Homo sapiens: one gene and its partners. The protein of the gene in region 1 interacts with the protein of each later gene in a biochemical or structural test. Each region holds a gene or a part of one and is shown in the gene's direction. Other genes may lie near its edges. The genes, in order: KAT6A, SYMPK and MAFK.

The links.
Region 2: the proteins of KAT6A (region 1) and SYMPK form a complex in vitro, tested with the Homo sapiens proteins (one study listed by BioGRID).
Region 3: the proteins of KAT6A (region 1) and MAFK form a complex in vitro, tested with the Homo sapiens proteins (one study listed by BioGRID).

Annotation. Positions count from the first base shown.
Region 1 is NC_000008.11:42,041,979-42,049,084, reverse strand, and holds part of KAT6A (histone acetyltransferase KAT6A), read left to right. Parts: 5' UTR 1-107; coding exon 108-707; intron 708-5,509; exon of another isoform or gene 5,510-5,581; intron 5,582-7,106. UniProt on the Homo sapiens protein: Histone acetyltransferase that acetylates lysine residues in histone H3 and histone H4 (in vitro). Component of the MOZ/MORF complex which has a histone H3 acetyltransferase activity. May act as a transcriptional coactivator for RUNX1 and RUNX2.
Region 2 is NC_000019.10:45,825,105-45,832,210, reverse strand, and holds part of SYMPK (symplekin), read left to right. Parts: intron 1-622; coding exon 623-827; intron 828-2,006; coding exon 2,007-2,157; intron 2,158-3,005; coding exon 3,006-3,241; intron 3,242-4,292; coding exon 4,293-4,374; intron 4,375-4,587; coding exon 4,588-4,701; intron 4,702-5,837; coding exon 5,838-5,985; intron 5,986-6,879; coding exon 6,880-7,040; intron 7,041-7,106. UniProt on the Homo sapiens protein: Scaffold protein that functions as a component of a multimolecular complex involved in histone mRNA 3'-end processing. Specific component of the tight junction (TJ) plaque, but might not be an exclusively junctional component. May have a house-keeping rule.
Region 3 is NC_000007.14:1,526,565-1,533,734, forward strand, and holds the start of MAFK (transcription factor MafK), read left to right. Parts: upstream 1-4,137; 5' UTR 4,138-4,334; intron 4,335-5,888; exon of another isoform or gene 5,889-7,170. UniProt on the Homo sapiens protein: Since they lack a putative transactivation domain, the small Mafs behave as transcriptional repressors when they dimerize among themselves.

The DNA of each region.
Region 1 (7,106 bases):
TGGTTAACTGGTTCCCAGCCTCCGAGAATCTTGTTTTCCATGGTGTAAAACTTACTCAGCATCAGGATAAGGGATAACGACTCTATGGATATACAGAATCCTTCACCATGGTAAAACTCGCAAACCCGCTTTATACTGAGTGGATTTTGGAGGCCATCAAAAAAGTGAAAAAGCAGAAACAGCGTCCTTCAGAAGAAAGGATATGCAATGCTGTGTCTTCATCCCATGGCTTGGATCGTAAAACTGTTTTAGAACAATTGGAGTTGAGTGTTAAAGATGGAACAATTTTAAAAGTCTCAAATAAAGGACTCAATTCCTATAAAGATCCTGATAATCCTGGGCGAATAGCACTTCCTAAGCCTCGGAACCATGGAAAATTGGATAATAAACAAAATGTGGATTGGAATAAACTGATAAAGCGGGCAGTTGAGGGCTTGGCAGAGTCTGGTGGCTCAACTTTGAAAAGCATTGAACGTTTTTTGAAAGGTCAGAAGGATGTGTCTGCATTATTCGGAGGCAGTGCTGCCTCTGGCTTTCACCAGCAGTTACGATTGGCTATCAAACGTGCCATTGGCCACGGCAGACTCCTTAAAGATGGACCTCTTTATCGGCTCAACACTAAAGCAACCAACGTGGATGGGAAAGAGAGTTGTGAGTCTCTTTCCTGTTTACCTCCAGTGTCCCTTCTTCCACATGAAAAGGATAAGGTAAGAATGGCATATGCTTCGGGGTTTATAGAGCTGATGATATAGGATGCTACAAATTCACATTTCTGGGAAGTTATATTCAAGTTTTTTGTTTGGGGACTTCTGTGGAGTGATCACCTCTGGTTTTTTATTGGTGAGTTGTAGCTATGAGAGCTTCATAGATTTGTTCTGGTACTTTGAAATATTTGAAGCCTAAGATTAAAAATGTAGAATGTTAATCTGACTAAAAGAACTTATTTACATTACAATGAAAAAGTGACATATGAGTTTAAAACTTTTTTTTAAATTTTTTTTTATTATTTTGCTTGAGGAGTACTCCAGCGTGAGACTTTAAAACTTTAACTAAAGGTTCTTAGAACACCTTACTACTGGAAGTTGATGAGCAGCCAAATCATGGAGACTTGAATTTGAAACAAGCAGATGACTCTGAGAACATTTTTCTGTTTTCCATTTTGTTGCAGATTACTCGTTAGACAGAAATGAGACAGATTCTCATGACCCATAGGCGCAACTAAGCAAACTTAGCAATTCTTGTTTCTGCTGTTTGTATTATAGCTTTCTGTCATGTATTATGGCTTTGCATATGATGAAGTCCTAAATGCTATTTATGACAGCTGTAGTTGCATGGGACAGGAATACAGTATCCTAAACTAGAAAAGTTCTGGAGGGTCTGGAACAGTAGTTCATGCCTGTAATCCCAGCGCTTTGGGAGGCTGGGACAGGAGGATGTCTTGAGCCTAGGAGTTTGAGCCCAGCCTGAGCAATATAGCGAGACCCCACGTCCACCAAAAATAGAAAAATTAGCCAGGTATGGGCGCGCCTGTAGTCCTAGCTACTTGGGAGGCTGTGTCGGGGAGGATTGCTTGAGTACAGGTGTCTGAGGCTCCAGTGAGCTATGCTGTCACCACTGCACTCCAGCCTGGACAACTGAGACCCTGTTCTAAAAACAAAAAGAAAGGTAAAGTTCTGGAGAGTTGGGAGTTTTGATGCCCAGATGTGTACTTTACTCTGTTGTGTTTTAGGATGTTATTGTATATAGTTGAAATTATGACTTCTTAAACAGTAAATTTTGGTGCTTAAATAGATATTTGGAGATTAGGAGAATTTTGTTAGTACCTGTTTTTTACATTGACCTAGTATCTTAGCTGTAAATTTACTTAAGGTGCTCTGAATTATAGTTCCTTGGAGAGCAGTGATGCTTTAAGTTGCTGCACACCTTGGTAGACATAAGTAAAATGATCTTCATTTTGCTTAAGATGATGGAGGATACTCCTAGGGTGGAAAGATGGTAAAGTTAACATTGAATGTATTTTGAAAATTGGAGATTTGATCTCAATTTGTTGTATTATTAGCAGCCCACTGAATACCTGTAGATTTTTCTTTAACAATTGAAAATTAACGGTATTTTTCTTTGATGAAATTTTTAGAGATCTATTTCAGGGTTCAATTTTCCCTGTGAACATTGAAATAAAACATAATCTTACTGTTATTACCCTTGAAATGATTCTCATACAGTCATGAATTGATAGAGAATCTCATTCATAAAATGGCTCTATGTAATTTGAGCATTTATTAAAAGTATATATTAAAAATTCAGGGTAGACAAGTAATTAAAATGCTTTATTCTATATTTAAGTGCTGTAAGAACTCTTACCTGTAGAAACTTTATCACATGTGGCTGAATTTAAATACAGTTATCGGATTTCTACAATTATTAAATGATCTAACAGGTTAACTGCCTGGAAACAGGAAATAATTTATAGTTAGATCAGTTCAGTGCCATACCTGTGAATTGGATGTTATAAGTTCCTGTTAGGCCACCTGTTTGCTTTTATTTATTTATTTTTGAGACAGAATCTCGTTCTGTCACCCAGGCTGGAGTGCAGTGGTGCAGTCTCACTGCAACCTCCGCCTCCCAGGTTCAAGCGATTCTCTTGCCTCAGCCTCCCAAGTAGCTGGGATTACAGACATGCACCACCACGCCCGGCTAATTTTTGTATTTTTAGTAGAGACGGGGTTTCACCTTGTTGGCCAGGCTGGTCTCGAACTCCTGACCTCGAGTGATCCACCCGCCTCTGCCTCCCAAAGTGTTGGGATTACAGGCTTGAGCCACCGTGCCTGGCCTGTTGTTTGCTTTTATTGTAATTACACTTGCTTGAATTATCAATAGATAATTTTAAAAAATATTAGCTATATAAAAATGTCATTTGAGCATATTTTTAAAAGGTAGTAAATATAGTACAGTGCAAGACAAATCCAAGTCCTAGAACCCTGAGATTTTACTTTTGGAAGGGACCCTGAGAACCGTCTAATCCAAGTCCTTATTTTGCAGCTGAGCTAAGGACCTTTGTTGAGACCATTTCATAGCACCTTTGCATTAAGAAAAGTTTAATTCAGTAGAGATGTGCTGTTTTGCTTTGACTGGAGTGCAGTGGTGTGATCTCAGCTCACTGCAACCTTCGCCTCCCGGGTTCAAGCGATTCTTCTGCCTCAACCTCCTGAGTAGCTGGGATTATAGGTTTGCGCCACCACGTGTGGCTACTTTTTTTTTTTTTTTTTTGTATTTTTAGTAGAGACAGGGTTTCACCATGTTGGCTAGGCTGGTCTCAACTCCTGACCTCAAGCGACCTGCCCACCTCGGTCTCTCAAAGTGCCAAGATTATAGGAATGATCCACCGCACCTGGCCACATTTGATTTTGGAGAAATAAAGCAAGAAAAACAAAAGTGATTTAATAATTGAAAAAATGAAAAAGAAATGCCCATTTGCTTACATAGCTTTCATATATAGTGTTTTTTTGTTTTTTTTTTTTTTTTGAGATGGAATTTCGCTCTTGTTGCCCAGGCTGGAGTGCAGTGGCACGATCTTGGCTTACTGCAGCCTCCGCTGCCCAGGTTCAAGCAATTCTTCCTTCTCAGCCTCCCATGTAGCTGGGATTACAGGCATGCTGACCACCATGCCTGGCTAATTTTGTATTTTTAGTAGAGACGGGGTTTCTCCCTGTTGGTCAGGCTCATCTCGAACTCCCAACCTCAGGTGATCCGCCCACCTTGGCCTCCCAAAGTGCTGGCATTACAGGCATGAGCCACCCTGCCTATAGTGTTAACTGAAGTAACTAAATTTAGACATGTTGGAAAATAGAGTTTGTTTCTTCAGGTAGACTTGTATATGTACTAATCTCATTGGAAAACTAATTTCATGATAGTATCTATTCAATTAGAGTTGGTGAGCTCTGTTCTATATTTTTAAATGGAGTCTTATTTTCAGTAGTGAATTTCCTGTGTGACTTCCCCCAAAGATATGAAAAGTTTACATTAAAAATCGTAATACAGTGAACTCTAGGATGAGAGATTATTCCTTTGAACAGATTATGTCTGCTCCTTTTATTGTATTTTAACTATTTTCTTTCCTCTCCTTCGAACTACGCAGTCAGTTGCTATGCAGAATTGATAGTTTGCTGTTACGAACCTAGATGTTCTCAAAAAAAGAAAAGAATTATCCAGAGTTTATTTGACAGTGATGGAGAAAGGAAGGTGTATAGGTCAGGAGTAGTTTCACTTTTAGGAATTAATTGGTTCAGCATATAGTCATTGAGCACCTACTGTGGGCCAGGCACTCTGCTTGGAACAGAAACAGTTCTGTCTTCTCTGGGATGCTAATGCAGGTATTTCTATTGACCTGGCCAACTGTAAGGTGAAGATGAAATTCAAAGACTGCGTGGAGTAACCCGAGCAAGTTCCTCTTTACTTTTTCTGGTATCAATTCTAACTTTTTGTTTTTTTTTGGTGATATTAACCTTTGGAAGGAACTGTATGTTAGATTTTCGGCAGCTGAGTGGTTTTGATCCTTTTGGGAGATCAACTGTGTTGGAATACGTTTAAGAGGAGTTTTTGTGAAGACATTGGAACTTTAGTGTGTTCTTTTCACATTGATAAGTACTGAGGAGAATCCATGGGATACTGTGATTAAAAGTTTTTAGGCCAGGCCTGGTGGCTCAGGCCTGTAATCCCAGCACTTTGGGATGCCGAGGGGGGGGTGGATCACCTGAGGTCAGGAGTTCAGGACCAGCCTGGCCAATATGGTGAAACCCCATCTCTACAGAATACAAAAATCAGCCCGGCATGATGGTGGGTGCCTGTAATCCCAGCTACTCGGTAGGCTGAGGCAGGATAATCGCTTGAACCCAGGAGGCGGAGGTTGTAGCGAGCCTAGATTGTGCCACTGCACTCCAGCCTGGGCAACAGAGCAAGACTCCATCTCAAAAAAAAAAAAAAAAAAAAGTTTTTACCCATGTTATAAGGGAAATTTTTGAGCTAACTTTAGAGTGTGGTAGTTAATGGTGAGTTTATTTATTAAAGTGTTTATTTACTATGTGCCAGGCGTTATTTTAATGCTGTATATATATTAACTCATTTAATCCTCTAACATAACTAGCTACTGTTAGGTTAGTTAGTTATTAATAACATAACAGTACCAGCAGTGAAATAGCTACTGTTATTTTACAGGTGAAGAAACTGAGGCATAAAAGAGATTTCAGTAACTTGCTGAAGTCACACAAATATTAGGTGGCAGAGCTGGGATTTGAATTTGGGCAGTCTGGCTCCAGAGTCTTTGTAATAGCCATACTGACCACCTCTTAGGAGCAGTAATGTATGATGGCTATCACTGCACTCAAGTACAGAATCGTGAATGTCCTTGGTGTTAACTTCATAGCACATTTCCTAATTGTTAAAGGACAAATTCCCGCCCGTCTTCATTGTGTCCATTTTTCTTTTTTTGCAGAACAGATTTGAAAATTCACTTTGGACCAGTGATAAGAATGTGTTAGGAACCAAAGATTAGGAGTAATCTAGTTTTGTATATCTGAGGTCCATTAAAAAAAAGTTTCACCTACATGCCATTTTTTTCCCTTAAAGATAATTTCTGTGCTAACTAATTTTCATTTCAGTTGTCACTAACATTTTCTGATAGGCAAGGTAGGGATCAGTTGTATTGCTATACCAGAGTGCTTTAATTTGGGACAGAAATACTGTTTTCCTTGAATCATGGGATTATAGGTGAGGAGAAGAGTGTGTAACTGGCTTAAATAGCATCTTCCTCTTTGTAAATTTCTTTTTGAAATATAGATATTACTGTAAGGTAATTTGTTCCATTTACTTCAGTTATTCATTATTTATTTAGCAAACATTTGAATGCCTGCCATGAACAGTGGATTTAAGATTTAGGTCCTGTGAGGGGATTAAAGCAGACAGAATAGAGATACAAAATAAATTTTTTGAAAGCCTTTTTTAGTTTATGAACTGTAATTTTTTTACATTATTATTTTTTCATAACAATTAAGTATCATGACTCAGAAATAATAATATGTTTAGTGGGCAAGGCAATTATTTGAGACTGTGATGGTCCATTTAAAAAATTATCTTTATATAGTGAGTCTTGGAAAGATTCAATTTCCTTTCAAGAATAGTTTTCACCTTGATTTCAAACTTCTGAGTTCATTTTTACACACTGACATAATTTACTTGAATATATATAGTTTGTGTTCTGTATTACTAGCCCAGAAAAATATTCTCTTTCATGGTAATCAGCCAGATCATTAAAAGTATTGTTATTTGGTGGCATAGTATTTTGGAACAGAATTATAATTTGCTAAAGCGTTCAGTTGGACAGGGAAGAGTAGGTATTGTCAACTAATGTTATTGTTCAGGTTACTCCCAGCTGGGTAACCTGGAGCAGAAAGATCCAATGATAAATCTCTTGCCTTCTACTCTAAGTTACATCTCAATTTGGTCAACTCTTAGTAGAGTCCAAATTATTTTGTTTTATTGGAATTTATATTTTAAATTATAGAGGAAGTAGAGCTTTGACAGGAATTTAGAATTTAAATTTTCGATGTAGAGATACTGATTAAAATGGGGATTTTTTTTTTTTTTTTGAGAGATGGAGTCTTGCTTTGTTGCCCAGGCTGGAGTGCAGTGGTGCAACCTCCACCTCCTGGGTTCAAGCGATTCTCCTGCCTCAGCCTCCCGAGTAAGCTGGGATTATAGGCGCATGCCACCATGCCCGGCTAATTTTTATATTTTTAGTAGAGATGGGGTTTCACCAGGTTGGCCAGGCTGGTCTCGAACTCCTGACCTCATGATCCGCCTGCCTCGGCCTCCCAGAGTGCTGGGATTATAGGCGTGAGCCACCGTGCCCGGCCAGGGATATGTTTTTAAGTTACTGAAAGTTAAGAGTGATGAAGTTTTGATTTAGCTATTTGGAAATGACCTTTATAGTAGAATAGTTGCACATTTTATATGTTAGAATGGTGGTATTTTATAAGAAAATTGTTAACCAATATAAGCTTGGAAATTTCAATTTCAATTACTCTGTTGCGTTGATACTGTATAAAAAGGCA
Region 2 (7,106 bases), on another chromosome or scaffold:
AGGATCAAGCCACTGCACTCCAGCCTTGGTGATGGAGTGAGACTCCGTCTCCAAAAAAAACAGCTGAGGGCTGGGCACAGTGGCTCATACCTGTAATCCCAGCACTTTGGAAGTCCAAGGCGGGAGGATCGCTTGAGCCCAGGAGTTCAAGACTAAGCTGGGCAACATATGGAGACCTCATCTCTACAAAAAAATACAAAAATTAGCTAGGTATGTTGGCATGCGCCTGTAGTCCCAGCTAGTTGGGAGGCTGAGAGGCTGAGGCAGGAGGATTGCTTGAGCCCAGGAGGTCAAGACTGCAGTGAGCCCTGATTGCACCACCGTACTCCAGCCTGGGTGACAGAGTGACACCCAGTCTAAAAAACAAAAACTGCTCATCATGTTTCCAAAGTGGCTGTAGCATTTGCTGCTCCCCCCAGCAATGAATGGCATTTCTAGTTTGAGCCTCAGTTGTATTGAAAAGTGGGGATAAAAAGAGTACCCACTCCAGGACAGTGTTGTGTGGATTTAAACGAGGTTTTGTGTGTACAGGGCTCAGAACAGAGCCAGGCACACAGGAGGTCCTCGGGTTGGAGCAGGTGGGTCTGACGCACTGGGTGTCTGTTTGCTGCCTCCCCCTCAGGTGTAGAGCAGACCAAACAGTGCAAGGAGGAGCCCAAGGAGGAGAAGGTGGTGAAGACAGAGAGCGTCCTGATCAAGCGGCGCCTGTCAGCCCAGGGCCAAGCCATCTCGGTGGTGGGTTCCCTGAGCTCCATGTCCCCCCTGGAGGAAGAGGCACCGCAGGCCAAGAGGAGGCCAGAGCCCATTATCCCTGTCACTCAGCCCCGGTGAGTCCTCTTCTGGGTGCTAGGGCAGGACAGGAGCCCTACCCTGAAGGTCTGGTTCTCAGCTCGTGTGCGTGTGCGTGTGCGTGTGCGTGTGTGTGTGTAACTGAGATGCAGACAGAAGGAAGTCTGGAATAGGTTCTCTCTGACTCCCGAGTCAGTGCCATAACCACTAAGCCTTTGCTGTTCTCTTTCCTGTAAAAAAAAAAAAAAAAAATCCTTTTTTATGTCTAAAATTAGGATAATGATAGTATCTTTCTCATAAGGATCAAAGAAGAATTAAATTAGTTCGTGGTAATGGTGATGGTTAGGTAACTAGATACTCGAGTGAAAAGTGATTGTGATTGTCAAGCATTTCGCGTGGTTCCTGTTGTGTAGTAAATGCTACTGGCTGTCATCATCATTGTCCCCATTATTACCTCCCTTACACACCACAAAATCCAGCCAGTCCCGGCCACCCAAGTCTTTTTATTATTTATTTATTTATTATTTTTTTTTGAGTCGGAGTCTCACTCTGTCTCCCAGGCTGGAGTGCAGTGGCGCGATCTCAGCTCACTGCAAGCTCCGCCTCCCGAGTTCATGCCATTCTCCTGCCTCAGCCTCCCGATTAGCTGGGACTACAGGCGCCCGCCACCACGCCTGGCTAATTTTTTGTATTTTTAGTAGAGACGGGGTTTCACCGTGTTAACCAGGATGGTCTCGATCTCCTGACCTCGTGATCCGCCTGCCTCAGCCTCCCAAAGTGTTGGGATTACAGGCGTGAGCCACCGTGCCCAGCCCCAAGTCTTACTAACACAGCTGAGCGGGATCTGCTACCCTCCGAGCTCTCTTCTGCTACCCTCACCCCTCCTCCACTCGTGCCCACAAGTCTGTTCCCACCTAAGGGCCTTTGCCTGGAGAGCTGGTCCCCCAGACATTTGTGTATCTTGTCCCTGCCTCCGTTCAGATCCCCACTCACAGAAGCCTTCCGTAAGACGCCCTCTGCAAAACCAAAATAACATCCTCTTCCTTCCTCTTACCCACCGCCACACCGTGCCTCAGAGACACAGAGGAACTGGAGAGGCAGCAGGGGGATGGGGGCCATCTCTGTTGCCTACCTAGTCCTTGAAGTTGGGAGAGTCACCAGACAGGCCTTTGCTGCAGTCTGGGTCACTGCATCTCTGTCACTGCTCTTCCACACAGGCTGGCAGGCGCTGGTGGGCGCAAGAAAATTTTCCGTCTCAGCGACGTGCTGAAGCCCCTTACCGATGCCCAGGTGGAAGCCATGAAGCTGGGCGCTGTGAAGCGGATCCTGCGGGCTGAGAAGGCTGTGGCCTGCAGCGGGGCAGCCCAGGTGTGCGCCTGCCACCCCCCACCCCATCCTTCCAGTCCCTCTACCCAAACGTCTACCTCACATCCAGCGAAGAGTCTGGCCCTGGCGTCAAACCTCCCTGGCTGCGGACCCCAGCTCTGCTGCCCACAGCCGCTTCTCCAGATCACTCCCATCCTCCATAAAACAGAGACAGTAGCAGCAGCTCCTCCTGGGTGACGAGGAGGAAATGTGCAATGAGCACAGGCACTCAGGTGCACAGGGCAGGTGCTGGGAGGCCTCTGCAAGTGAGGGCTGCTCTTGTGGTCTTGGTTCTTCACGGTTGTTAACGTTCTTACTGTTACTATTTAGCTTTAGAAATATACCTGGTTCTCTGTCCTGATTCTGCCACTTGCTGGCACTGTTACCTTCAAAGAATGGGGAAAAGTGACTTTTTCCCCATTCTGTGAAGTTAATTGTTGATTAGCCAGTAGTATAGGAACATACTCCCTGAGCTGAAAAATATTTCCGGGGAATCCAGATCCAGTACTCTTCCGTGGCCATCACCTGCACCCCATCCCTCTCTTCAAAGGTGACAAAGGCACAAATGAGGGGAATCTTTGAGGATCTTTTTCTGTGCACTTAAGTACATGGGTGCTGCTCCTAGAAACTCATTTTTATTCTGTGATGATCGATCCCCACCCTGGTACCCCCACCCCCCAACACACAAACGGGACCTTCCTAGGCATAAGGGTCCTCGGCTGGCCTTCCTCGCTTCACTCCTTGTCTGCTCTGAGAGTTCCTGCGTCTGGGTGGGAGAAGTCGCAGGGCACGATTGCGGAGTCCCTGGATTGCCCACCCTACACTGACATGCTGGCTCACCCTCCCACCAGGTCCGCATAAAGATCCTGGCCAGCCTGGTGACACAGTTCAACTCGGGCCTGAAGGCGGAGGTCCTGTCCTTCATCCTGGAGGATGTGCGGGCCCGCCTGGACCTGGCCTTCGCCTGGCTCTACCAGGAGTACAACGCCTACCTGGCCGCAGGTGCCTCGGGCTCCCTGGACAAGTATGAGGACTGCCTCATCCGCCTGTTGTCTGGCCTGCAGGAGAAACCAGACCAGAAGGATGGGTGAGGGGGCTGACCCTGCACCCTCCTGTCCCCGAGAGGCTTCCTCTCCTGGTGCTGCCCTCCCTTTCTGATTGCGACCACCTCCCTCTTCGTCACCCCCCGAGTCAGTCCTCCTCGCACCCATCCCAAGTCTCCTCTCCTCCTCCCCCTCTGGAGGCACGTTCAAGGTTGTAGTTTTGCATGTGGGCTCCAGGTCGCACTCCCTGAGCTGTTCCTCAGCTCTGCCACTTGCTCTGAGCTTGCTCTGCGTGGCTTTGTCACTCCCTCTCTCTGCCATTTTCCCATCTGTAAATAACAGTGCTCACCCATGGGCCTGGAGATAGACTTCTCTACACCCCATTCACTACCTGAGTTGGTTCTGTAGCTTCCTCCCTATCCGTGGCCTCCAGCTTACTCGTCTATCCTCCACACAGCAGCTCCAGGAACATTTTATTATATAAATCCTTTTATTACTTCCCCACAAGGAACCTTCCATGGTTCTCCATTGGTCTTGGGATAAAACACAGCCTCCTTACTGTGACCAGTGAGGCCTTATGTGACCCAATCTCTTTGGCTTTACCCCCCGAACATTAGCCACATTGGCCTTCTGTCTGTTCCTCGAACATGTCAAATTCAGGGCGCTGGTGCTTCCTGTTCTGTCCACCTGGAATGCTCTTCCCTCAACTCTATGTGTGGGTGGCTCCTTCTCATCCACCAGTGTACTCAACTGTAACTTCAAAGCGGCCTTTTGAGGCCACCATATCTAAAATACCCACACCCTTCTCCACCCGCCATCATTCCCTCCCGTTCTTATGTTCAGTGAATAAAGTTAGGAATCCCTGTTTGACAAACGGAAGAAATGAGTTTCAGAGAGGTGCAGTCTCTGCCCAGATCATCCAGCCGCCAGCTTTTGAACCCTGTTCTGTTCACCTCCAAAGCTTTATAAGCAGGGGCTTGAACAAGCAGCCCCTGAGGGAGGGCCTGCTGGCCCTGAGCTCCTACAATTCAGCAGGGCCCGGGAGCCAGGCGGCCTCTTCCTCTGCAGCCATGGCCCTCCCTCCATCTCTGGCAGGATCTTCACCAAGGTTGTGCTGGAGGCGCCACTCATCACAGAGAGTGCCCTGGAGGTGGTCCGCAAGTACTGCGAGGATGAGGTGAGGACAGGCCCTGGTCAGTGCAGCCCGGGGCAGGGGACAGGGCCCTGCCCTGAGGGGTCTGAAGGGCACACAGTCTAAACCTTGTGGCCGGGGGTTTTGTGAGGGACCGGGCCCTTTTGTCCAGGTACCTGATCAGAGGCAGGCAGGAAAGACAGAGCCCAGAGGCACACTCAGGTGGGCTGAGCTCGGGTCCCTTTCCTTTTGCTGCAGAGTCGCACCTATCTGGGCATGTCCACACTTCGAGACCTGATCTTCAAGCGCCCGTCCCGCCAGTTCCAGTACCTGCATGTCCTCCTCGACCTCAGCTCCCATGAGAAGGACAAGGTGATCCCCTCCTCCACTTCCTGGCTGCCCTCAGCCTGCAGCTTGCAGAGGCCGCCTCTATCCTGAGTAACCAGCCCACGTCTTCCACACTCCCTTGCAAGTTTCTCTGGGCCCATTCCCTTCTTTCAGTGGTTTTTTGGCTATTTCTGTCTGTTTTATTTTCATTTTCAGTGGCATCAAGCTGCCTAGAAACCAGGGTTACCGTGCCTGAGTCTGCCTGTAGTGTGTACACACACACACGTGCGCTTGCCCTCCTGGGAAGGGCAGTCCCACTCTCGCTCTTAGTCCACCCGTGGTGGCCAGCACAGGCTCCTCGTGCAGCCCAGTCCTGTGCCGGGGCCTGAGGGCATTGCCCAGCCCAGCAGGGGAGCCGGTGTGGCCTCAGCCAGCAGTGAGGACACAGCGTGCTCAGCAGCTGAGCAGAGCAGTGTGTGGCTGCCCTGGGGAGGGAGGGGCCGACCATCTGGTTGTGGGGTGGGCAGGGGAGGTGTTTCAAGGAAGGCTTCTTTCAAGGAGGGGACTTGTACGCTGAGACCTGGAAAATCAGTAGCTGGGTGTGCTCTAGACAGAGGGGACAGATGTGCACGTGCTGTGGTTGAGAGCGCCCTTGACCCATCGTTGCCTGCAGCCTTTTGCCCCAGCCCTTGCTGGGTAGCGTTTTCATTCATTCAGCAGACCTTCATCTCACACCCCTGGCCCTGGCCCTGGCCATGGCCATGTGCTGCTGCTGGGGTCAGAGTGCCCAGGACCAGACCCTTCCCTCACGGCTCCTGGCAGATGATATCTGAGTGAAACAGGGTTTAGCTGGCAGTAGACGTTCTAGGGAGACTTGGCAGGGAGTGGCACTTTTAAGGAACTGAGGAGCTCTCCCTCTGCTTGGAGCTTAGTGAGCAAGGCAAGAAGCAGTGATGGGCAGATGGGCTGGAGAGGCAGGCAGTGAGGTGGTGCTGCGGGTCCGGCCCTGGCCAGGATATCTGCCTCCTGCACTGGGGACCAGCCCTGGGCCCTGGTAACAGCTGGGCTGCCCCTTCTCAGCCTCGGGCTTGTTTTCACGTGAGTGTTGCCATGCTCGCAGGAATAGCTGTTCTTCCTCTTACCTCTTCCCTGACCCTGCCCTTCTCCATCTTCCTCCTCAGGTGCGCTCCCAGGCCCTGCTGTTCATCAAACGCATGTATGAGAAGGAGCAGCTGCGGGAGTATGTGGAGAAATTTGCCCTCAACTACCTGCAGCTCCTGGTGCACCCCAACCCACCGTCTGTGCTGTTTGGAGCTGACAAGGACACAGGTTGGGCACAGGTCATCAGATGCATACTGAGCGCTGCTGTGTCCGCGCTCTGGGCCCTGCGAGCAGAGGGGATGAGTGGGGAAGCCACTCGGACACGAGTGACGGGAATGGGCAGGACTGGGACAGCCACCTGGGGGCTGTGGGAGTCAGGGTAGGGGGCATCTGGCCCAGCCTGGGGGGTCAGGGAGAGAGATCTGGAGGACGAGGAGAGCCAGCCATCGGTGGGGCCTGAGGAAGGACCAGGCAGGGCCATCTCAGGCAGGTTCCCTCAGCAGAGCCCTGGATTACAGACAGGTAGACTCAGACCCCGAGTAAATGGACCATTAAATGGGAAGGCTTGGGCCATGATAGGGCAGCACGGGAGGCCTGGCCCAGGTGCCAGGAAGCATTCCCAGGAGATGCACAGCCTTCGGGAGGCCCAGAAGCTGAGCAGGTGCCGTGGACCAGGCAAAGAGGAGGGTGGATGCAAAGGCAAAGAGACCAGGGCCCTCGGGACTGTTAGAATGGGTATGTGACCAACATGGAGGGCAGCAGAGCAGCAGCGGGCCGGGGCCACCCCATACAACACCTGGCAGACAGTGTGAGGCAGGGAGCTGGGGGTTTATTCTGAGGCCACAGGGCAGGCATGGCTGGGATTGGAGCCAGAGAGGGACAGGGTCAGGATCGCACTTTAGAAAGATCCTTCTAGTTGCCTTGTGTGTTGGCAGTCACGGGAGGCTGGAGGTGGGAAGTCCTGGTCCCCGCCATTTCCCTGCCCTAGAACAATTAGCTCCCCAGCCCCGGCTCCCTTCTCTGCCCTCCCCGGCTCCACTGCCCAAGAAGGGACATTCCTGAGGGTCCGAGGGGGTTGGAGAAGAGTGTGGGCCAATCTGATGCCCGCTCCTGCCCTGTCAGAGGTGGCAGCACCCTGGACGGAGGAGACAGTGAAGCAGTGTCTGTACCTCTACCTGGCCCTCCTGCCTCAGAACCACAAGCTGATCCACGAACTGGCGGCCGTGTACACTGAAGCCATCGCCGACATCAAGCGGACGGTGCTGAGGGTCATTGAGCAGCCGGTGAGGCCCCTGAGCCCACCAGGCCCTGCCCACCCACGGGCAAGGCTGTGTCCCCAGCTCCAGCTC
Region 3 (7,170 bases), on another chromosome or scaffold:
GAGGAGGAGAAGGAGGAGGAGGAGAAGGACAAAGAAGTAGTGGGATTGCTGGGTTCTAGCACAAATCGGGGCCATGGTCTCATGGACAGTGTGGCCAGACTCCTTCCCTGGGGCTCCGCTGCCTGGCCCCTCCACCAGCAATGCGTCCAAGGGCTCGCTCCCTGAGCCGTGCCTTTGGGGCACGAGATCTGATTTGGGGATTCGCCTGGACAAGAAGCAGAACGGCAATGTCTTTCTCTGATGTGCATTTCTCTGATTACAGACACCTTTTCACATGTTTGTCCTGTGGATTTCTTTTTCCGTGGATGATCTATTCACCTCCTTTGCCTTCTTTTATTGGTTGTGTTCTTTCATACACGTTTAGGAGCCCTTTGCCTGGTAGATCTGAGTTGCAAGTATTTTTCCTAGTGTGTGCTTTGTGTTGTGACTTTACTTCCGAGGATTTTTGCCTTGAATCTGTTTTGTGGTATTTAGATTTTTAATCATGATTAGAGTAACCTTTTTCCACTCTGAAGTTATAAAGAAAGTTACATATGTTTTCTTCAAGGCTGGGCACAGTTGCTCATGCCTGTAATCCCAGCTCTTTGGGAGGCTGAAGCAGATGGATTGCTTGAGCCCAGGAGTTCAAGAACAGCCTAAGCAGCCTAGTGAGACCCTATCTCTATTTAAAAATATAAAAGTTAGCTGGGCATGATGGTGCATGCCTGTAGTCCCAGCTACTTGGGAGGCTGAGGCAGGAGGATTGCTTGAGCCCAGGAGGTCCGGGCTGCAGTGAGCCAGGATCGTGCCACTGCCCGCCAGCTTGGGTGGCAGAATGAGATCCTGTTTCAAAACACACACACACACACACACACACACACACACACACACACACACACACACACTTTTTCTTTTTTTGGAGACAGAGTTTTGCTCTTGTTTCCCAGGCTGGAGTACAATGGTGCAATCTCGGCTCACTGAAGCCTCCGCCTCCTGGGTTCAAGTGGTTCTCCTGCCTCAGGCTCCCGAGTAGCTGGGACTACAGGCGTGAGTCACCACATCTGGCTAATTTTGTATTTTTAGTAGACATGGGGTTTCTCCATGTTGGTCAGGATGCTCTTGAACTCCCGACCTCAGGTGATCTGCCCGTCTCAGCCTCCCAAAGTGCTGGGATTATAGGCATGCGCCACCACACTCAGCTAATTTTGTATTTTTAGTAGAGACAGGGTTTCTCCATGTTGGTCAGGCTGGTCTTGAACTCCTGACCTCAGGTGATCCACCCACCTTAGCTTCCCAAAGTGCTGGGATTACAGGCGTGAGCCAGCTTGCCCAGCCAGAACTTAACATTTTTTTACAAAAGGAACTACTAAATGATGAAAAATTTCTGGAGATGGATGATGGCAATGTTTGTACCACAACGTGAATGTACTTAACGCCACCGAACCGTACACTTAGAATGGTTAACTTGGCCTAGTGTGATGGCCACCATGCCCAGCCTATTCACCTAATCACACCTGTGATCTTAGCACTTTGGGAGGCTGAGGTAGGAGGATTGCTTGAGGCCAGGAGTTCAAGACCAACCTGACCAACGTAGCAAGACCCTATCTCTGAAAAAATATTTTTTTAACTTAAAAAAAATGGTTAAAATGGTAAATTCTATGTGATGTTTACTTTACCACAATAAAAAGTAAACTTTGGCTAGGCACAGTGGCTCATGCGTGTAATCCCAACACGTTGAGAGGACGAGGCGGGAGGATCACTTGAGCCCAGGAGTTCAAGACCAGCCTAGGCAACAGAGCAAGATCCTGTCTCTACAAAAAAAAACAAAGAAAATTAGCCAAGCGTGGTAGCACCAGCCCTTGGTCCCAGCTACTTAGGAGGCTGAGGTGGGAGGATCACTTGAACCTGGGAGGTGGAGGCTACAGGGAACTGTGATTGCACCAGTGAACTCCAGTTTGGGCGACAGTGAGATGTTGTCTCATAAAACAAACATAAATAAATAATTCAAAATTTTAAAAATTAGGCTGGATGCAGTGGCTCACGCCTGTAATCCCAGCACTTTGGGAGGCCAGGGCGGGTGGATCACCTGAGGTCAGGGGTTCGAGACCAGCCTGGCCAACATGGTGAAACCGTCTCTACGAAAAATACAAAAATCAGCCGGTGTGGTGGCGCACGCCTGTAATCCCAGCACTTTGGGAGGCCGAGGCAGGCAGATCACAAGGTCAAGAGATTGAGACCATCCTGGCTAACATGGTGAAACCCGTCTCTACTAAAAATACAAAAAAAAAAAAAATTAGCCGGGCGTGGTGGCAGGCATCTGTAGTCCCAGCTACTCAGGAGGCTGAGGCAGAAGAATTGTTTAAATCTGGGAGGCGGAGCTTGCAGTGATCCGAGATCGTGCTACTGCACTCCAGCCTGGCAACAGAGTGAGACTCCATCTCAAAACAGCAACAAGAACAAAAACAAAATTTAACCAGACGTGGTGGTGGGCACCTGTGATCCCAGCTACTCGAGGGGGCTGAGGCAGGAGAATCACTTGAACCTGGGAGGCGGAGGCTGCAGTGAGCCGAGATGGTGCCACTGCACTCCAGCCTGGACGACAGAGTGAGACTCCATCTCAGAAATAAATAAATACAAATTAAAAAATTAAAGAGATAATAAAAGTGTGTGATTAGTAACAAAAGCCTGCTATGGAAAGAATGCATTTGGGTTAGAGGAGCGACACCATGAGTAACGTAAAGAGTCCCGCGGAGATGGCCACAGCTTCTCTGGAGGCTCCCAGCGCATCCCAGGACCCCGAGTGCAGAGTGTGGGCCAGGACAAGGGAAGCACCTTTCCCATCCCCGGGGGATGTCTTTCTGCAAACATCCTGGGGACGTGGGACATTGTCGCTACTGCTGCTGTTGAGTTATTTCTTGGCACCTGTTTCTGCGGCCAGGTTGCAGGCATCACTGTGGCTAGCTGCCCCAGACGGCCGTGTGGGCCTTAGCAAGGAGGGGCCTCCCAGGTGGCCAGTGCAGAACCCGCAAGTGGGGGGGAGAGATGGCCCGGGAGGCTGCCCCCGCGCTCCACAGCAAGAGGCCACTGGGCTGCTGCCTAAATCCCCAGCCACATGGTGGTAAGGACGACACCCAGAAGATGCACAGACCTCCCTGCACTGGCTCCTGAGTCCCACCTGAGCCGAGAAAACAGGCTCCCGGGTCCCACCTGAGCTGAGAAAACAGGCTTCCCAGAACCCCGGGCAGATGCCATGGGTGTCCTGGGGGGCCCTCGGTTGCCCAGGCCTGAAACTCCTCTTCCTGCAGCGCTCAGAGGGGGGCGGGACTTGGGGACCCAGAAGCGTGGCAAGGGGCTCCAGACGGATCCCCTCTCCAGCCTGTCCTCCACCTGTGACAGGAAGCAGAGGCAGCTCCCTCAGGGGCCCGCCCCCACCTGAGGATCCCTCACAGGACTCCTTGGGCCAGTGGTGCCCTAACCCCATCCTGGGCCTGCTGTGTCCCCTGGCAACCACCAGCTGGGGCTTTAGAAGGGGGCTGGCCCCACCCACAGAGGCTGTGATCACTAGCCGCTTATCCCCATTTTTACATTGCTGGTTTGCTTGTTTTGTTTTTTTGAGACAGGGTCTCACCTTGTCACCCAGGCTAGAGTGCAGTGATGAAATCATGGCAGCCTCCACCTTCCAGGTTCAAGCCATCCTCCTGCCTCAGCCTCCTGAATATCTGGGGCCGCAGGCACATACCACCACGCCCGACTAATTTTTGTAATTTTTTTGTAGAGATGGGGGTCTCACTGTGTTGTCCAGGCTGGTCTGGAACTCCTGGGCTCAAGCGATCCTCCTGCTTTGGCCTCCCAAAGTGCTGGGATTACAGGCATGAGCCACCGTTCCCAGCTGGCCTTAATGTTTTTTATGTTTATAGAGACAGAGAATGGGGGAAGGGAGGTTTCGCTATGTTGCCCAGGCTGGTCTTGAACTCCCGGCCTCCAGAGATCTTCCCGCAGGGCCTCCCAAAGCGCGGGGATTGCAGGTGCGCGCGGGGCCAGCGGCCCCCCGGGCGGGAGAGGAGGGCGTGGCCGGGGGGCGTGGCCGCGGGGCGGGGAGGGGGCGTGGCCCGGGGGGCAGGGCGGTGTGACGCGCGCGCCGCGGATCCCGGAAGCGGTGTCAGATGCTGGGGAGCCGGGCGGGCGGGTGCGGTGGCGGCGGGCGGCGCGGGGGCACTTGTTGTTCTTCGCGAAGTCGGAGCCCGAGCGCCAGGCGGCGGCGGCGGCCGAGGGGAGCGCGACAGTGAGCGCCGGCGCGAGGACAGCGCGTGCCCGCGAGGAGCCGCCGCGCGCCCGCGCCCTCCGCGCGACGCCAGGTGAGGGGCGGTGGGGCAGCGGGGCCCGGGCCGCGGCGGGGACGGGGACCGGGGCGCGGGGCCGGGGCTACCTGGCCGCTGAGTCACGGCCGCCTGGGGGCGCGGGCCGAGGGTGGCGGGGTTGGGTGCGCGGGGCCCGAGACCCTCATGCGGCCCGCGGCGCGGCCCGGGCACCTGCCCAGGTGGGCCCCGCCCCGCAGGCCCGGGGGCTTCCCCGGGACGCGAGGCTCTCTCCCCTGCACGTGCCGCCCGGGCCATGCTTGCCGCGCCGGGGGCCCCAGGGCGCGGACCCCAGACCTGGGAGGACGAGGATCCACGCGGGTCGGCGGCGCGCATCGGGCCCGCGCCTTCACACCTGCGGGGGGCGGGGCGGGGCGGGCGCCACGTGCGGGCGGTGCGGGGAGGGCGCGGGCGCGTGGATTCTCCGCGGCTTCCGCCCCAGCGTGGCTTCCGCGTGCGGCCCCGGACTGCCCCCCGCGCTTCCTCCCGGTGACGGGCGGCGCTCTGGCCCAGTGGCTGGGGTCACGCGTGCCCGGGAACGGGGTGGGGGTAACCGGGTCTCCCCACAGGCGGGATCCTGGGACTGGTGTCGCTCTCAGCCGCCCACCTGCCAGGGTTGCTGGAAGGAAGGCCGTGGGGAGGCGGGAGGGGGGCAGGTGACAGTGGCCCCAAGGCTCGTCCCTTTGCTCACGTGTGGGGCAGGGGCTCCGGCCTCTTCCCGCTCCCACTGCGTGAGTTCTTCTGTGCCTCTGTCAAGTTCAGGAAACTGTGTATGTGCCCGTGACTGTGTGTGTCTGCGTCTGCACAGCCTCTAGATCCTGGGGGGTGGGACCAGGCGCCACCGAGAAACCCAGAAAGCCAGGACCCCGCCTGGCCTTGGCCCTTGACCTGGGTCCGCCTGGGACACAGCAGTGGCCCTGCACTGCATTCTCGCGCTCACACCGTGTGTGTCCGTGTTCGCGGGGCCTCCCGTGTCCCTCTCCTGGTGTCCTGCGTCCCTGAGCATGCTGTTTTCTTGCTTCTTAAGTAGCTCTTGTAGCTGAGGCAGAAATTAGATCCACTCACCATTCATTCACCAGGTGACCCACAGGCAGCCAGCCAATCTCTGGCCAGGTGCCTGGCCTTGGGAAGATCCTGAGACTCAAAACGCCCCCCACCGCCCCCCATCGTGGTCTAGGGGATATCTGTGTGGTTCGGCTCTGGCAGCGCCCTTCCCACCCCTCTGATTCTCCAGGGTGGGCTGCCAGGTCTCTTTACTGGCACTGAGGTTTCACCGTCACGGTGTGTTGTTGTAAGGGGTTCTCCAACACAGAGTGGGGTGCCCTATGCAGCTTCTCCAAACCCAATGTCTTCAGGGACATGGAGCATTAAAAGAGCCGTGGGCGGGGTCTGGAGAACATAGGTGGGCTGTGCAGGTGTCTGGGACACACCTACACCCTATTTGGGCGTCCAGTGCCATTTATGAGAACATCTCCCTTTCTTAGGTAACCCAGTAGGAATGTCTGAGTTTGACCTTGGGAGAGGGAGTCTGCTTTTAAAACTAGACCTCTCATTATTCCAAAATAAGACATTTATTAAAGCAGAAAAACCAGGCTTCTCCTGCCTTTTATCCTTGAACCGAGCCAGGGCTTTGAGGGGCTGGTTGCCCGCAGCGTCGACTCCCCAGGTGCTGGTAAACCCGGGAGCCAGCGTTTACCGAGGGTCAGGGTTGTCGGGGCGCCAGCCTTTGTGTGCACCCGGGAGGCTGCTGTTAAGGGAGACCGTCTTCCGGGCCACTTCGCTGTCTACAAGGCGTGTGCTTTCACCCACGGGGCTCAGCGATGGCTGCGTTTGTTTACAGTCTCTGGCAAAGCTGTTTGCCACCCAGACGGAGAAGAAGTTGTGCCTGTTCTTGTCCCAGCTGTTTCTGAGTCTAAAGGTTTCTGGAGTGGACTTTCTGGGTTTCGGGTCCAGTCCACACGGGAAATGGAAATCTGGCCAGCTGAGAGAGGGCTCCGTGTGGCCGCCTTTCAACAGTAAACAGTGACTCACCGCTCCGTCCCCACCCTCCCTGCTCTCCGCGAATGGAAGATGCCTTTCCCCGCTATTTATTTTTGCTTTTTATAAGTCACAGACTCGTCATGTTTCCGCTTTCCTACAGTTTCAGGAAACTGGGAGTGTCGTCTTAAAATCATAGAGTTTTAGAGCAGGTACAAGCGAACTTGAGTGGCCACATGCCCCACCCCCCGACCAGCTGCTGTAGATGAGGAAGCCCAGGCCATGAGGTCTGCTGGCCTGTCCCACAGGCCGGTGGGGTCTGGTGTAGAGCCTTCCTGCTTCTCCGCACTGTGCGTCGGGTGTCCTGGGGAAGGTATTGGGGTGGAGACTGCCCTCTCCCTGCCCTCCCATGCGGGGCCGGCTCATCTCGTACAGCGGGGGCTAGTGTGGGGTGTAGGGAAGACCTTCTCCCTGCTTGCAAGGAGCTCACCATGCCTTGGGGAGGCCCCCTGTCCCCAGAAGGATCTAGAACCAGGCCTTGGTAGAGGGTGCTTGCCTACGCGAGGAGGAGAGCAGTGGGGAGTGTTTCTGGAAGAAGCAGGGCAGGGAACCACGTGCTCTCTGCAGATGGTGATCAGAAACCTGAAACGGCATTGGGGTGGGGGAGTCGGGGTTTGGGAGGAACCCCCAAGACTTTTGACTGCCTGTGGGGCTGTGTGGGGGGCACCAGGATCAGGGTGAGGGCATCCCATTTGGCAAAGCTGTGGTCCAGACAGGAGACGCTGGAGGCCGGAGCCTGGGCAGGTGCTGTGGGTTCAGGCGGGTGATGCTTGAGGGCTGGGATCAAGCCTGGTTGGCG